Linked DNA regions of Homo sapiens: region 1 is linked to region 2. The links come from fine-mapping of genetic effects on gene expression. Tissue or cell type: whole blood. Region 2 holds a variant in brackets; the other region holds the start of a gene. All regions are shown on one strand. Distances are from middle to middle.

Region 1 (5,150 bases), 23 kb before region 2:
AGTATTGCTCAAAATGTTCCTTCGACACTACAGGAAAGAATGGGGAAGTAAATGTCAGTCATTAAAGTGTAACCCAAAGAGGTAAGTCCTAAGGACTTCTAACGTCTTTCATAGATGAAGAATTTGGACCCTATTTACACTCTAATTGGGAAAGCAAAAAAGGCTTGTTGTTGTTTTTTCTTGAAAAACATTGGCTCCTTCAAGACAAGAGACTGAAACTCTTCAAAATAGTAATTTTGTGCATTTCTCTCACTGGTTTGAGTAACTTTAGTAAAAATTTAAAGTTACACATAATTAACCAAAGTGTGTGAGATAGGAATCAACGTATCAATGTTAATATCCTGATTGTGATATTATACAATGGTTTTGCAAAATGTTACCATGAGGAAGACTTGGCAAAGTGTAAAAGAGACCTCTCTGAATCATTTCTTAACAACTGCATGCCAGCCTACAATTACCTCTATTACAAATTTTAATTTAGAAATGTGATTGAGACAGAAATGGATGCAGGGATTCTGGCACATTTTCATAATAATCTGGCTTCACCCACATTTCCCAGTTATTTCTCCAGTAGTTTCTTGAATGACTCCCTTCCATCTGGAAGAGGATACTCCCAGCTTTTCAAACACACTGAACGAGCTCATTCACACCTGTGGGCTTTCCCCCCTCCTTTGAATTGTTCCCAGCTCCAGCCCACACCGCCCTGACTGGACCAAGCACAATACTGTCACTGAAACAGTTCTTAGCATGTCTAAAAGTCACTTGGCTAGTAGTTCATCCACTCGTCAACAAAATTTATTGAGTAACTGCTATATGTGTGGTATGGCTCTAGGCACTAGGGATAGAGTGAGTTGGAAACAATATTGAAATTAGTTTCTCTTCCCTGGTCTCTGGGAGTATATTCCAATGAGAGAGAGTAGAAGAAAACTAGCAAGAAACAAGGTAAAAAAAAAATCAATTCATGATGAGGGTTATGAAGGAAGTCATAGGTTAGAGGGGATAAAGTGACTTTATCTCAAGTGGTCAGGGGAGGCTTCCTAGGGGAGAGGACATTTGAGTTGTGACCTCAAGTGTAAGGATGCAGACAACATAGAAGATCCTGGGACAAAAAGCATTTCAGGCACAGAGAATAAGAAAGTTACCCTGTAACTGAATATAAATATTTGGTATGACTGTAAAATAATTAAACAGATGCTCATTTTTGTAGACTGTTTGCTCCTTATTTTAGGACCAAGCCTCCCATAGCCTGTTTCCCTCTATGAGAGACTGAGAACACCCTTAGGCTGGTCCAGATTTTACACTTTTCAGAGCAACCCCTTCCCCAACACACACGTGCACACTCTGGCACGGCCACCTGCATGCCAAGGGGTGACTGCAGGCTGATCTTCCAAGTGGCTCTCATCAGTAGCTGTACCCTTAATCCAGGGCTGTGTATAGGGAGATTTACATTTCTTCCTCGCTGTTGGGGCCGTCTGCCTGCTAGCGACGATTCTACACTAACGGCTACATAAATTACTGTCATTAAAGTTGGGTCCTTGGGTCCCCAGAAACCTAACTAGAGGCAAAGGAGGAACCAACTAAGAGAGGTCCAGGTAACAGAGCCCGGAGCGGGACGGTCATTTGTTGCAGGCCCCTGGGGTATGTGCCTGTCTATCGCGCACCGGGTCCCAGCAGCAGTGGTTACCGGCTGAGAAGGGCTGGGTTCCCAGGACGCTGCGGGTACCTCATGCTATCACCATAGCCGGGAATCCAGTTTTCTGGTTCCCCTCGTCTGTATTTGCCTAAGGCGACTTGCCGCCGTTCCTCTGTCCCCTAGGCAGGGAGAAGTCAGCTCTAGGACACCCTGCAAAACGCCTCGAGGGGTTATCTGCCCCTTCCCGGCCGCGTCCTGGCACCGTTTCCCCATCACCCGGAGGACTGAGCGCTGTCTCAGGGCGCCCTCTGTCTCTTCCAGGGGGCAGCCAAGACGACATGCCCTGCGTCTCAGGGACGCGGTACGAGCCCTGGTATTCCCCCCGCCACCTCACACACCCCCATCCGGGAGACCCACGTGCAGCTGGGCCCGGGCTGGCGCCGCACCTCGGGGTCTGCGCGTCTCCCCGGCGCGTTCCGGGCGCAGCCCCACGACACGGACCCCTGGCGGGGCGGCATCCGAGAAGTCGCAGGCGGAGAGGGGGCGTCCTGGAGGCCGGGCGCGGGGACGCTGCGGCCCGCGGCCACACAAAGGAGGCGGCGGGAAGGCGGGGCAAGGCGGGCCGGGGGCGGGGGCGGCAGGAAGGGGCGGGGGCCCGCGCGGCGCCGCCGATAAAGCCCCCGCCGCCGCGGCAGCCAGCTTGCGCTGTGGGGCTGCCCGGGCTGCGCGGCGTCTGCAGGCGCCACCGCTGCCTCTTTCCGGCTGTGACCCTCCTCGCCGCCGCCGCTTGGCTGCGTCCTCCGACTCCCCGCGCCGCCGAGACCAGGCTCCCGCTCCGGTTGCGGCCGCACCGCCCTCCGCGGCCGCCCCCTGGGGATCCAGCGAGCGCGGTGAGTACAGGCTGCGCGGTGAGTCCCGGGCGCGGCCGGCGCTGCCCTCGGCGGGGGACGCTCCCCGGGGCTCCGCGCGCCACCGGCCCTGCTCCCTGACCTTGCGCCCGGCCGGGAAGCTGCGGGGCCAGCGGGACCCTGGGGCGCCGACGTCGGGGAGCAGAGAACTTTCTCAGCCTCCCGCGGGCCGCCTTGGCCGGGGCTGGGTGCTCGCCGGGCATCCCGGTCCCGCCCGCCGGGAGCCCCGAGCGGGACCCGGGCAGGGCAAGGCGGGGCCGCCCCGGGGTGGCGTCCAGTGATACCCGCAGCTGGGAGCACCGGGGCCGGCGTGGCTCCTGCCCGGCCATCCGAGCCGGCCCTGACCCTGAACCTGAGGTTTCCAGCTGCTCGCCGGCAACCCCTACCCCGGACTTAGGCTGCGCGCCGCCGGATGGGGAGAGACTGGCGCACTCTTACTTGTTACCTCTGCCTGGGCAGAGGGAGGTGACGCGCGGTGTGGGGAAAGCCTTTAACTTGGCCTCTGGCAGCCGATTTAACCCGAGCGAGCAGGTCTTTGCTATTTTCATCATCTGTAGAAACGGGAGTTGCGAGGCGGATGAGTGACTGCAGGTAAAATGAAAGTACGGTACTCAGAAATTCTGGAAGGAATTAGGCATTTAATGTGTCCACAAACTGAGCGGGGAAGGAAGGCTTCTATTACATAAGACAGCACTCCACCTTCAGGTATTATGGAAGATGCTGTTGAAGGTTTTAGTGTTTTAATGAACGAAACACATTCTTTGTGTGTGTGTCTCTGGAGAAATCTCGAATGCTGCTGTCTTGCTTTGGCTACTTTGCAGGGGACGTTCTTATATTTAGCATCAGCATAAAAAGGTGTTCGAAGGTGTGACTTCCTCTTTCAAGCCAAGAAGCCGTTTATTTGTCTGAATTGTTGTGGAACAATATATGTGATAATTGTGTACTTTGAAGATTTTATATCAAAACTTGAGCACAGATAACTGGAAGAATTGTCAACATTGCTAATTTGTATATCCTAAACCACACTTCGAAAATTGAAGACAGTTTCAACACTATCTGAAGGTCTAAATCAGTACTTATTTGCTATTTGCAGTATTTCAATAGAAAAATTTTTGGCTATGCAAATGAAGGTACTAACCTGAGTAATCTAAGGTTTCTTTTAACCCCCAAATTTTGATTCTTTGTTAAAATAATGTTTGAAAATATCGTACCATGCAGGGCAATTACTGAAGGTCATGAAAATGTCATCGTATTTTATTCTAAAAACAAAAATGAATCTATGCAGAAAATTTCCGTGTCCCATGAACTTCATATTAGTTTAATTTTAAAAGTACTGTCTCCAAAAAAAGCTAATTTTCACTTCCACACAAGGGTGATTAAATACCAGTCAGAGATTGTTTGAGGTGGTAGAGTTGGAAATGAGGTGGTGACCTGGCCACGTCCCTGGGTGCATCTCAGCCTTGCTGTCCTCTTCCAGCCAGTTCTTTTCCCATCGCATGGGGACTTTGGCTCTTGGGCTATTTCTCCTCCTCTAGACCTAAAGTCCATGTGGGGGACGCTCTAGATGCGCACTTCCTTGACTGTCTCAAATCCAGTGTCTTCCATGTACTCCAGCTACCAAGTCCTCTAAGTACCTCCAAGTCTTGCCCTCTCTTGAGATGCTCAACTTCTGAAAACTCTTAGTGCCTCCAACCCGCAAGCTCCTTCCTTCCGGGTTGCAAACCGGACTCCCACTGTAATCTTCAATGCAAGCGATCTCCAATGCTTTTCCTCTTGCGGGTTTGGCAGGTGACTTTGTAGCCCATTCTACCAGGAGAATAGAGGTCATAAGTATCTCCTCACGTCCTCCCCCATCTCCCCTGTACAGACTTTTCTGTGTTTACCCAGTCATCCAATAAATCTTCTTAAGCATCTACTGTGTCTGGGTACTTTGTTGGATACTCATAGGTGGTAAATAGAGCAGATCCTTGCTCGCTTGAAACTGTCATTCTTGTGGGAGAAAACCAACTAAAAGCAAACATAATATGTTGTAAAATGTATGATAAATGAATAAGGTAGAATTATAAAGAAAAATCAAGTTAGACTGAGAACTTAGAGAAATATAGAGAGATGGCCTCCTTGGGGCAGTGACTAATGTCTCCAGCTGTGTCCTGAATCCCAACTCCCAGTGCCTCTCTCTCCTTGTGAGTGTTACTCCCTTTTCTTACTTTTATCTTCAGTCTCTCCCTGTGAGCTTTTTTCTTTTTTAGTAGTATTTTAAGAATGCCTTAACCTCCCTTGTCCCTGCATCCTCAGCTCACCTGTAGTGACAACCACGTCTCTCCAGGCTTCTTAAACTGGTCTGCCCTTCCTGTTCAGCTCTTTGCAAGCTGGCCAGAGTCTCCTCAAAGTTCAAGGCCTGTGACTTCCTGAACAAGCAATCTTTTTTTTTTTTTTTTAATTTTTATTAATATGCTTTAAGCTCTGGGGTACATGTGCAGAACGTGCAGGTTTGTTACATAGGTATACACGTGCCATGGTGGTTTGCTGCACCCATCAACCCATCACATTAGGTATTTCTCCTAATGCTATCCCTCCCCTACCTCACTCCCCGCCCCCCACCACAGGCC
Region 2 (5,150 bases):
GAAATGATGAAGGACAGTTTCCAGACTTTGGCTTAGGTTCTTGGATGAACAGTTGGTGGTGTCACTTAGAAAGATATAGAACCTGGGAGAACAGCAGGGTTGGGGTGAGGAGTACTTTTTCTTCTCATCCTGGTTTTCTATGATAAAGGGACTTCTATATATCTTTCTACCCCTTTTATTATTTTATTATTATTTTTTTTTTTTGAGAAGTACTGTGTTTTAGAGTCTGCTTGCAAAAATGGAGGGTTTTTCTCCTGGATTACCTCATCTTCCAGTTACCATTGTTACAGGCTTTCCAGTGGAGCTCAGATTTATTTCTAAACGATCTCTTTGAGCAATGATCAAGCATTTTCTATATGAGGTATTTCATCCATCTAAACAAAACTGTGATGAGAGTTGGCCTAAACTCTAGACTTCTATCATGGAATGTGTTGACCACTGAGGCAGGGCTGGTCTGGCTTTAACACACTAAAACTTCTTAAAGAATTATGTTAGTATAATCCCACCCTATTTCAGTTTCAGGCTGGTAGGAAAACACTTCCTTATTCATGAGGTTGGCAGCCTTGGAAAGAACACAAGGAAAATCGCCAGAGCCTGACGCCCATTTCCTCAGTCGCCAGTGACCATCAATCATTTCCTAAGCCCATCATCAGGGCTGTCGATGGAGTCACAGGGCTGAGCTGCTTCCCCTGGGGAGGGCAAGGCCTCTCAAGTCACCTTCCCTGAGGACCTGTGACCAGATGTGAAAGTCTGATAAAGTCACATACTAGAGACCCTTGACTCCCTCTAATAACAAAGAAATAAAGGAAATTGAAAAAAGACCACAAGTCTTAAAGGCAGCTTTAAACATGTGTTTTGATTTTTAGAAATTATAATATTTGAACATTTTGCCCTTGAGGAAATGTTAAGCTGGACTGTAGTATAGGCCTTCAAAGCCTGAAGAGAGGACCCCAGGCCTTCGTGATGATGGTGGTAAATGGGGTAACAGCAGAGGCCAGCTTCGAGTGGGGCCTCAAGAACTGTCCTAAGAACCTGAGACATAGTACTTTTTAAAATCCTTATAACAACTCTTAAAGTAAGAACTACTATTACACCGATTTTCAGATGGAGGAGCTGAGGCACACTGAAGGCTAGCACTTGTCAAAAGTCATACAGATAATTGGCAGTGGAGGTGACATTTGAACTTGGGTGGTTTGTCTTAGGAACCTGCAGGGGCCATGTATAGTGTCCTAAATCCTTTTGTTAATTTCTTATAGAATAAGAATTAATACTGTTATAAGTCAAATAATTATGAGAATGTACAATTATGCAAGCACCCTAAAACTGTAGCTATTCTTTTTGAAAGGACCAAAAATATTACATTTTTGTGTGATTGTACATTTGCAGTACAGGGAAAAAGTAAGAAATAAAAAGATCTGTCTTAAGGTACATTGGCATTTGTTTGCTGACTAAAATTTTACAGTAGGGTTTTTTTGTTGTTATTTTGAGATAGTTATATAGATTCACATGCAGTCGTAAAAAAAAAAAAGTAGTAATTCAGAGAGCTCTCGTGTACCCTTTACCTGGTTTCCTGCAAAGGCATTATCTTGCATAACTGTAGTACAGTACCACAACCAGGAAACTGACATCACACAATCCACCCACCCTATTCAGATTTCACCAGGTTTACAGGTACTCACTGGGGTGTGTGCATTTACTTCTATGCAGTTTTATCACATGTATGGACTTGTGTGGGCACCACCACAGGCAAGATACAGGACATTTCCACCACAGGGACCCCTCATGCCTCCCTTTTATCGTCACACACATCCCTTTCCCTCTCTTGTTCTCTAACTTCTGGTGACTACTGATCTATTCTCCATCTCTGCACCTTTGTCATTTCAACAATGTTATATACATGGAATTACACACTATGCATCTTTTTGAAATAGGCTTTTCCATTCAGCATAGTTCTTTGAAATCCAACCAAGTTGTTTTGTGTGTCAGTAGTTTATTTCTCTTTATTACTGAGTAGTAGTCTGTGGTGTGGATGTACCACAGTTTAGCCATTCACCTACTGAAGAACATCTGGGATGTTTCCACTTTGGGACTATTAAAAAATAAAGTTGCTGTGAACATTGGTATACAGGTTTTTATGTGAAATGATTTTCATTTCTCTCTAATAAATGTCCAGCATTGCTGGATTATACAGTTAAGTGCATGTTTAGTTTTGTAAGAAACGGCCAAACTTACATTAAAAAAAAATAAATAATAAACAGAAACTACCAAACTATTTTTTTTTTTTTTTTGAGACGGACTTTCGCTCTTGTCGCCCAGGCTGGAGTGCAATAGCACAACCTCGGCTCACTGCAACCTCCATCTCCCGGGTTCAAGCGATTCTCCTGCTTCAGCCTCCCGAGTAGCTGGGATTATAGGCACCTGCCGCGACGACTGACTAATTTTTATATTTTTAGTAGAGACAGGGTTTCACCATGTTAGTGAGGCTGGTCTTGAACTCATGACCTCGGGCTCAGGTGATCCGCCTGTCTCGGCCTCCCAAAGTGCTGGGATTACAGGCGTGAGCCACTGCACCTGACCTACCAAACTGTTTTCTAGAGCGGCTGTGCCATTTTATATTCCCACCAGCAATGTGTGAGTGATCCAGTTTCTCTGCATCCTCACCAGCAATTGGTGTTGTCACTAGTATTAGCCATTCATCTGGACATATAGTGACATCTCATTGTGGTTTTAAAAATTTGGATTTCCCCAGTGGCTAATGATGTTGAACATCTTTTAATGGACGTATTTACCATTTATACATCCTCTTTAATGGAATATCTATCCATGTCTTTTATTTCCTAATCCGATTTTTTTTTACAGTTGGGGTTTAAGAGTTTTCTGTGTAGTCTAGATACTAGTCCCTTGACAGATACGTGATTGGAGAATATTTTCTCCTAGTCTCTTCATCATCTTTGCAGGATCTTTTGCAGAGTAAAACTTTTCATTTTGATGAGGTCCAATTGATCAGTTTTTC[A/G]GTTTATCAGTTTTTCGTTTTATGAAACTCAGGCTTTTAATGTCAACTTAGGGTTTTGATTCCTGCCTGTTGTCATGCGCAGTGCCGGGTGGTGAGAAAGAGAGCCATGGAACAAGATAGACACTGGAGTGTGAATGATTCTTCCAGTTTCTGTCCGGTTGGGTTCTGCAGTATGTCTTGATGAGCTGCCTATTTGTTGGAGTCATGGACACAGAGTTGCCCTTGTCTTGCAAAGGCTGTAAGGTGATGATGGTATGAAAGGAAAAATATTTCCAGAATAATCCATGGTACCTCCCAACACAAGGTTTGTTTGCACTTGAGAGCTTCTGTCTGGAATACTCTTCCTTGCTTCCATCTCTCCGCCCCTTTGTCCAGTCACTTCCAGTCCATCCTCCAATGTCTGCCCATGTGGCCCTTCCCAGGAGCACTTCCCTGGCCACTGCCTCTCACCCTGGCCCAGGTGTGCCTCTGCTTCCATTCTTACACACTCTCCTCGATGTCAGAGCATTTGTAAAGTAAATACGTGAAAATGAAAGTAAATATCAAGTAATAAGACGATTTGATTAAGGTCTGTTTCCCCTCTAGACCAGGCTTCCCCAACCTTGGCACTACTGACATTTCGCTGGATAATTCTTTGTTGCAGGCGGCTGTCTTGTGCATTGTGGGTGCTGCTCAGCAGCACCCCTGGCCTCCCCCCACCTAGCAGATGCCACGGCACCACCCTCCCTGGCCCCCACCTACCAGATGCCATGGCACCACCCTCCCTGGCCCCCACCTAGTGGTGAAAACCAAAAAAAATGTCTTCAGATAGTGCCAAATGCTCCCTGAGCGACAGAGTCACCCAGGTGGAGAACCATGCCTTGAGACTCTGAGAGGTGGGAGGGCAGGTACCAAGCCCCTTTTCATGCCTATTCTCTCTCTAGCATCCCAGCGCCAGGCCTGGCACTGTGGTGCTTCATTAATATTTGTAGGATAAATTAAGGGATAAACCAACTTAATAGGGGACACTTGTTTACACGGCAGCCTTGGAAATGCTACCCTGACTTCAAAGGAACAAAGTGGGTTTTGTTGGGCACTTGAGACCCAGGAGAATCTAGAGTCTTCTGTATTCAGGTGGATATGGGTTTCCTTATGCAGTACCCAAGACAGCCCCCACACTGAAGAGTTATGTCAGTAGTGCCGAGATAAAGAAAGCCTGCTCTAGGGCACAAGAGAACACACATTCCCACTCTCGCCCCAGGCGCCACACAATGATCCCTCTGACTTTCCCTCTGACTTTCCTTAGTTTAGAATCAGAGTCTCCGTCTGAAGTCCTAGACTGTTTCTCATCAATGCAATGACTGCATTGATACCAATTTACCTAGTGGTTCTCCCTGGAATTTTTCTTTTTTTCTTTTTCTTTTTTTTTGAGACAGTGTCTTGATTGTTGCTCAGGCTGGAGTGCAGTGGCATGATCTTGGCTCACTTCAACCTCTGCCTCCTCGGTTCTAGTGATTCCCCTGCCTCAGCCTCTTGAGCAGCTGGGATAACAGGTGTGCGCCACCATGCCTGGCTAATTTTTGTATTTTTAGTAGAGATGGGGTTTCACTGTGTTAGCCAGGATGGTCTCGATCTCCTGACCTCAAGTGACCTACCCACCTTGGCTTCCCAAAGGGCTAGGATTACAGGCATGAGCCACCTCGCATGGCCACTCCCTGGAATTTTCAAGCCAAGGCTTCTCTATTTGGGAGAGGAAGGAATGAGGCCAGTTACTTTTGTGTATCCTAGAAGGGAAAGGATGTGGTACTGGTAATTGAAGCTTTGGCCTGCCAGCCCACCTTATCCAATTTGTCAGCCCAGGTTCATCTACATCCTGTTGAGAAGTTTGGCAGCTGGAGGTGGACATGCACACACTACACTGAACCTCCTGCAACAAGCACTGCGGAAGGTGTGAACCCCAGGCTGAGTGACTGGGCAGCTGTTCCTCTGCAGGAATAGAGGAGCCCCAGCCTCCTGACACGGTGCACCTCCTGAAACCCACAAAGCAGCAGTAGGGAACCGTGGATGACATTACCAGTCCTCCCCACCTACCGCCTGGTCACTCCTTACAGGCTGCCTTTTTCTTCCTAAGCCAAAGCCAGCTCTATCATTCAGGTTC

Evidence for each region. PIP is the estimated chance that this variant, and not a neighbour inherited with it, causes the effect.
Region 1: it holds the start of SERPINE2, and the variant in region 2 is fine-mapped to the expression of SERPINE2 in whole blood (INTERVAL, PIP above 0.99).

What each region holds. Positions count from the first base shown.
Region 1 is chr2:224,036,472-224,041,621 of GRCh38, reverse strand. It overlaps SERPINE2 (serpin family E member 2), which reads left to right and starts at 2,336. Exons shown (of 9, transcript NM_001136528.2): 1 at 2,336-2,523. LOC124907991 (a long non-coding RNA gene) reads right to left here and starts at 2,220. Exons shown (of 2, transcript XR_007088103.1): 1 at 2,080-2,220. RefSeq lists a silencer at 1,876-2,170.
Region 2 is chr2:224,013,645-224,018,794 of GRCh38, reverse strand. The region is part of intron 1 of SERPINE2 (serpin family E member 2); the gene reads left to right. The region is part of intron 1 of LOC124907990 (a long non-coding RNA gene); the gene reads right to left. Among named protein-coding and RNA genes, the nearest start is that of SERPINE2, 23 kb to the left of the region's middle. RefSeq lists an enhancer at 3,208-3,707. The variant A/G (reference allele first, on the strand shown) is at 3,014.